Linked DNA regions of Homo sapiens. The protein of the gene in region 2 purifies or fractionates together with the protein of the main gene of each other region. This does not show direct contact. Each region holds a gene or a part of one and is shown on either strand. Other genes may lie near its edges.

Region 1 (3,467 bases), on a different chromosome or scaffold from region 2:
TTGGATGGAGATTCACATTCAATTGGGTAGAGAAACGTTTCCACAAACACCCAGTTTAGCATTTTCATTATGCCCCCAACATTGTCTTAGGACCTGGCAGATTGTCTGACATTGGAAGGAAGCCAGTGCACATTTGTTAAATCAATTCACGCATTAAGCAATAATTCTCATCAAGATGGTGGGAGGGCAAAGGTTATATGACTTCACAATCTTTCAAAAATTAGTTATCACTTTTTGGTCTTCAATTAACATCGCAATGTTGCAGGGAAAAACGCCTTAAGCAAAACTAATAATTGTTATTTCTTGGCAAAATAAAGAAGAAGTGAGTATCTGTCTCCACCAGCAAAGTCAGGAACTGAGAAGAATCATAGAGGGTATAGAAGGCTGTGCTGATGGGAGTGAGGAACAGGCAGGCAGAAGGAGTGCTTTGCAGGGTTTGGGGAAAATCAAAGTAGAATGTTTGGACTGGATGGATGTAACTTTATAGATAAACCAATTCAAACACCAGATGATACAGGAGGAAATGAGACCCACACACATCGTGCAACCTGACTAAGGTCACTTAACTTACCAGCAGCCCTGGGTTAGGGAAGCAGAGCTTCTGACTTTGGGTCTCATCATTTTGCTTACCACACAGAGCTGCCCTCCATGAAAGACTGAATGTCTTCTAGCCTGGCAGAGAAAGTGCCAATATCGGGAATATCCCTGGGATAATCTTGGTTCCAGGGACAGAGCCAATGTTCTCTAATATAGGCAAAGAAAAGCCACAAACATTTTGTAGGTTCATAAGAATGGCCATTTTACTTTTCACTTCATTCCAACATAAGTTCTTGTGTATCATAGCAGAAGTAAATGACAGAAATGCTGAACCTTTCTAGTTTAATAGAAACAATGTTTAAATATTCTAAGCCGTGGATTATAAGTAGAATTAAAATAAGTGATCCAAAACACAAGTCATCCCTCACTTTATAGCTACATGGCTTAGTCACATGCATATTTCAATCCAGCCTTACAACCACCCCATGGGCTAAAAGGATGGAGGATGAGAACTGCTGTCTCCACTTTACAAGTACAGAACTGAGGCTCTGGATGATCAACAATCGGCCCAAGGGCTGACACCTATAAGTATCAAAGCCAAGGCCACGGCTGAGTTCTCAGTAAATCCAAGGTCCTTCATGACATGTAGGAGAAGTACAAGCACCAGGATGACTGGGAATGTCTGTTTAAAAATGGCTAAATCTGCTTGTTTAAGGTAATTAGATCCAGAGGACTTGGCACAAAACTGAGTTTCAAAAGGGGCTTTGAAGAGCAGGTATTGACATGTGGCAGAGATTGGGTTCATAGAACATGTTCTTGGTTATTCAGGGAAGAGGGGCATGTTTCTGAGTAATCAGAAGCCCTGTGTGAGAAAGGAATATTTTCTAGGATATCTGTGTGGCTCATGGAGCTGCTGGATGAACTTAAGATGCCCTGGACCCAGGCCTTCCCACTGGGAGGCCTGGCCTGCTAGAGGGCAATGGCTATACATGGGGGAACCAGGCTGCCTGGAAGCCTCCTCATGGGAGTGAAAGTGAAAGCCTGTCCCAAGCTGGCTGAATGGCAGGCACGTTGCTCCTTGGCCCATTCCTGTGGTCCTGTCTCCATCCCCTTGGGTCCTCTTGATTTTTCTTTCTGCCAAACAGCTTTCCCCTAGATATCCAAGGACTTGGTTCTTTTCTCCAAGTAGACTTGGTTCTACTCCACAGAGTAGATACAGCCCTCATTTCTAATAATCTTTTGGAAAAACTCTTGCCTTCCCCGCGGCCCCCCATCTTTACTTTCAACACACACACAGTCCGTCGCAGAACTGCCCTCCTTAAATACTCTCTGATTACAGACACAAGTAGGAGCAATGAATGATGTGTCTCCTAGGCCAGGTGTGTGGTAGGGTAGCTGACACATGTTAGAAGGAAGTCTGCCCAAAGACACAGAGGAAATGAAACTCATATTGAAGGCAAAAGAAGAGTACAGAAGAAAAAAAAAAAAGGCTGGGGATGGATTGGAAAATGGGAAGAGGAGTTACTGGGATAAGAGAAAGCTGGAGGGTGGCCTCTCCTGGAGTAATCCACCCAAAATAAGGCAACCTGGTTATAGTTTGCCCAATAGGCTCAATGGGCCAACACCACTTGAAGTAGCCTCTCCTTTTCCATTTGGCCTCCTTGGAGACAGTCCTCAGCAAGCTGAAGCGGCAATGCTATGCGTGGGCTTAAGGGCTCTTGTTTAATCTGAAGCCTTTAAAAAATAAAATAAAAGAAGTTGTAACTTTAACAACTATCCCTAAAGCACAAAAGTTAAAGTTATTTGAGGAACTGCCATCAGAGGTATCATAATGTCTTACTTTAAAAATTAAGCAAAATGTTTCATTGTAAAGACAAAGTGTTGTTTTAATATGAAACATGAATTTCCATCAACATTAACATCTTTAAGGTTAAATGTAACACCACCAGTCTCTGTATTTGGAATTCGGAACTTGTAAGAAACTGCCTTTTCCTGATTCATATGAGGACACGATCACACCTAGATTGGAAGATTCACATACTACCAGCAACACCTAGAATCATCTTTAGATAACAATTTGGATCATAGGCCATGGAGAAAGTTTGTCCTAAATGTTCCCTTGTGTGGCCCTGTGACTATGGGGAACAAATGCTGGTGATTAGCTGTTTTATCAGGCAAGCAATATGGGAAGAGGTAGGAAGAAGGTGGTAGAGAGAGAGAACTAACATTTTGACTGGCAACTAAGTAGCAGACACTTCCCTTTATTTCTTATTTAATCTTTTCAATTATGACATGAGGCAAATATTTCCCCTCCTTTAAAAAAGCAAAAACTGAGGCTTGAAAATGTTAAACAACTTCTCCAAAGTCGTACAGCTGCTCAGTGGTAGGTGTGACTTAAGAGTCCGTATTCTTTCCACTGCTGTGTGACATGATTGAGCCAGGTGCTTCCCTGTGGTCAGGGAATGTGTGGCTCCACATGGTTCCTACCCTGAGATATTCAGAAACAATTAACTGCTTCCTCTCACACATCCTGCATAAGTTTCATTTGTATCCCAACTTGCACCAGGCTGACCTCAGCAACACTTCCATGAAAGTCAGATCTGATGGCTTTTTTGAGAAAAAGGATATGAAAAAAAAAGATGAGAAGGCAAGACACTCAGAAACCAAGCCCCTTTCCCAAAATGACAAAGAAAAGCAAATTCCCACTGGGAGCAGGAATAGGATCTAAGGACCCCATCTGGTGAGTCACATGTACTAACTAAAGCACAAGATCTGAGAGTTGGAATTAACCATGTTGGGGATGTCCCCTAAAGAGACAAATCAGCCCCAAAGTGTTCCAGAGCTGTAAATGAAATTTGGATTGATTAAGAAGCAGCTTGGCATCTTTCCTCTCCAAGTACAAAACCCTGGGTTTTCAACCCTGTTCCAGT
Region 2 (4,286 bases):
CCCAGATATTTTCAATCACTCCGATTGTAATGACTCCACAGCAGAAATCACACATAGGAATTCATATCTACTGTTAACTTCTTAGGTTCTAGATTTGGGGCTCTTATATCGTCAAATTTTTCTACTAACTCTGAGAATATCTCTATGTGTGCAAAGTCCACAGAGTAAAATATATGGTCACCTCTTTGGGAAACGGGGGTAGAGGTAGAGAGAGGAGGTGTGAAAAAGCAATTGTGCACAGTGGAGGTCAAGTTTACCAGGAAATTGTAGTAGGATTACCAGATAGTGCTGAGATAGGGTAATCATGAATACGTAGAGAATCCAATTGCCTTGTTGTATGACTTCTTCTCTAGCAGCATTTGGCTGCTGGGGTGCAAATACTGGAAAAACTAAGTTGTTTCATTCAAAACAGACTTGGGGATTTTTCTAAATTTTTCTATGTATGGTAAAAAGCAGATAAGGGACAGAGTTGAGGGTACTGGTATGAGTGCTACTGCTAGTAATATGATGTTTGTGGAATCTCAGCTGGAAACAAAGACATGAAGAGAGGCTTATGGATTGGGAGAAAGATAGGTGAGAGAACTGGGAGTCTCATTTAATGTAAAAACTATGGTTGGGGCGATAGTTGAACAAACAAGTATGTATTTATCTGCAGACACAAATAGTAAGTATATACATTCCTTTATTAGGGTAGCCCTTGCACTTATAAAGAAACCTTCCTCAAAAAGGAAATGTACAAAATGATGAAGATACCATAGTTTATTTCAACATACTAAGCCAAAAAAATAAGAAAACAACTAATTTATTTGAAAAAAAAACAAATTCTGTACATGCAGGCTTGGCTTGATTGACCATAATGTATTTCAGCAAAAAAAATTTAGATACACCACACATAATAAAGCTTTCTATGTACACAGTAAATAGTAAATAACTTTGCTAAATGGCCAGACATTTGAAAAAATGAAAACACAGTTGTAAAACAAAGTATGTAAGAATATTGTGACCTTATTTAACTGTACAAAAAGCAATCATTCTCTCCAGCCTTCCATCTTCACTTACATTTTTTTAAACAAGATTAAGCCCCAAATTGAAGGGATTAAATCCTTTCTTCCTAATGCCTCGGGAATATGAGATTCTCTTTCAAATCTTTAACTTTTTACAAAGGAGCAGAGCACTTAAAGGGAAATGGTGGGAAACAAAGAGATTTCAATTCTGTGCCATTCATCCAGATTCTGCTGGGGAAGATTTCCCAAGTCCACTACCAATTCACTCAACTTGGTTTAAAAACATAATACCTGATTGTAGGATTAATTTGGCTTTTATTTAGCCCATCTGCAGCTTTATCATTAAAAATCAGCTCCTGACATTAGCCCTTAGTTCAGTATCTACAAATGAAATTTGGGAATTCTATGACAGTGATGTTAGCATATTTAAATGTAAAATGCAAAATGATTAATTTTTAAATATGCAAACTGCTACATTTTCTCAATAATCAATTCATGCACAAATAAAAAATGGCAATAGAAAAAGCAGAAAAATATGGATGTTTCTAAATGAGACAATGAGACAATTATAAAAATTTCATGTATTAATATCAAGACAAGGCTGGGGCCAGCTTAGTTGTAAGAAAAACTATTATTGTATATAATTGGACAGCAAAACCCAGTCCTGTCTAAAAGCAATGGATCAAACTGTCTTCTCAAGTCCTTCCTGGCCATATTTCTATGTGATACAATGAAACATTTTTAATAAATGCAATCTATCATAGAACTGCAAGTTTTTATATTCCTAATGAACTTAACTTTATTATAGCAATGATTTAAATACATGTACTGTAAAAAAGAGAAAACAGTTGTAAACACACTCTTAATTTTTTTCTTTATCTGCAAGATAATATTTTTAAAAGATTACACAACTTCTTGATTCTTTAAGAACTAAGAACCAAAGTATTGAACATAATAAATAAATGTGCAACCTGGAGGCCTGGAAAAAGAGATAGAATACCAAATAACAAACCAGTGCATTAAAAATCCAGTATGTCAGTATTAAGACTTCTTCATCCAAATCCAGTTAGGTTTATTGCTATTATAAATAAGCTTCACATTAAGGCATCTGTCATTACCTATGAAAAAGATTTGGATTCAAAACAAAGGAATATACACTGTACAATTTTTTTTCTTTCATTCTGATGTCATTACAGATATTATCAGTTTTAAATGTTAAGTTTTTGTATGGCAATATATAAATATCTTTAAACATATTACCTGAATACAGTTCAAATGTCTCTCTATATTTTGATACTTTAATATATATATTTAAAGTATATTCAATTAATGAGGAAATAGACAAAAGCAAATCAACATAGATGGTAAAGGACTAAATCTGAGACATTACAACCTCTAAAAAAAAATACTGTACAGACAGTGACGATGAGCAGATCTTGGCCAAGTCATTTAACTTCCCTGAGCCTCATTCTTTCCATCTGTAATATTTCAATAACAGTTGCTCTGTCAAGCTGTTTTGAGATCAAATGAGATGATGTAAAAACACTTGGCAAACTGAAGCAATGCAAAAATTAATGGTATTATCATAGGCCAAAAGATCTCAAGTTTCTGACAGTGTATCTAACAAATAAAGTTATGGCCTGCTCCTTTTGCATTCACTTGAGAACTCCCAGTTTTGATTAGATTGTTATGGAAAGAATGGAGCCAAAATTTATGCAAAGAGAAAATCTCTAAGTTTTAGCATCCAGAATTGTATAAAGTACAGTTTGTTGGGAATGGGAAACAACTGCTTGAAGGGGTATACAGAATACCAAATAATAATGTATTAAAAATTCAGTATTTCAGTATTAAGACTTCTTCATCCAAAGACAGGTCTAACTCTAACTAGGCTCAGGCTACCTCTTGATACTTACTAAAAATAAATAGGGGCAGACTTCTCAAAAACCTTGGTTCCCGGCCTTTCATCAGACTCTTCTAGAGAAACCTCCTTTTCCCTCACCATTGGCTATCATGTTGCATAGTCACATTAAAAGAACTATCTCTTATAACAGCTCAAGAGTTTTAAAACCATAAAGAAACACAGCCTAAGTCAATTGCTGGTACACTATTCAGGCTGGTATAAATTTGAAATGATTCAATAATCCCTACCATGTTCTCCCTTTCTCAGTCCATAAGCCCTTCCTCTATGTATAAATGGTTCTCGGCCAGCTTTTTCCAATCTTTGTTCTGAGGAACACTAGCTGGGTGAGATGTTAACAGGTAAAAAACATCTGTGTTAAGTATGTTGGGAATATGCAGGGCGAGATAAATTTATGTACCACTGAACTGCTCAGTCTTTGATGTACTGACTGTACTTGCTAAAGAAGAATGAAGTGTTCAGCATTTCCCAAACTCATCTGACCACAGAATCCCCTTTTTCCCCCAAAAAAATATCTAGAGGAGCTAATAGCTCTTAGAATATTCTTTGGAAAATGCTATTCTAGCCTGATTCTAAACATTCCAGAGCTAAATCTGGCAATAGTTATGTTTTTAATTTCTGAAGAAGAATCATTTTTCTTATAAGGTCAACTACCATGATAACCTCCTGGTTTCCACTCCATAAGTAGGCTTCCCAAAGCAACTAACAACTAAATTTTCTTCACTACATACTAAGGAATTCAAAGAACTTATTCTTGCGTGAATGAGAATTATGTTCTTTTTAAGGAGATACTTATATTCTTCCCCTAAGCATTAAAAATACAAAGATCTAATTCTAGATCCTAGGACCTAGAATCACAATTATTTTAAGGAAATGAGAGTATTTTATTACAACATCATTGCAATTAATATTATCAATGAATGATAATTAGTAGTGGTGCTAACAGTAGTAGTGTTGGTTAAGCATTTATTTTTGCATCCTAATCCTAATATCCACTCTATGAATTTAGGACCTACTATTACTCCCATTTTAAAGATAAGTACACCGAGGTTTACCAAGATTAACTGACTTGCCAAGGGTCACACACTGGAGTAAGGGCAGAACCTTAGACTCATGTCTGACCCCTCGCCCCATGCTCTTAACCACATAATGCCATCTTTTATTTCAGTGACAAGACAAAAGCATTTAGGTCACACTCTTGTTGTTAAACAGGAAAATTATATAAATGCAAATTGTTTAGAATAGGTTTTGGATTTCCTTTTGAGCAAACCCCCAGTCCTTTAAAGGATATACTTAAAATTTTTTTTAAGCAGAGGAAAATAGACTACTATTTACCAATGACAAGTTTATAGAGTTTTAAAACG

The links.
Region 1: the proteins of RRM2B (region 2) and OPALIN purify together in Homo sapiens (co-immunoprecipitation; one large-scale study listed by IntAct). This does not show direct contact.

The regions. Positions count from the first base shown.
Region 1 is NC_000010.11:96,342,443-96,345,909, forward strand, and holds the end of OPALIN (opalin), read right to left. Parts: 3' UTR 779-3,467; downstream 1-778. UniProt on the Homo sapiens protein: Central nervous system-specific myelin protein that increase myelin genes expression during oligodendrocyte differentiation. Promotes oligodendrocyte terminal differentiation.
Region 2 is NC_000008.11:102,203,838-102,208,123, forward strand, and holds the end of RRM2B (ribonucleoside-diphosphate reductase subunit M2 B), read right to left. Parts: 3' UTR 665-4,286; downstream 1-664.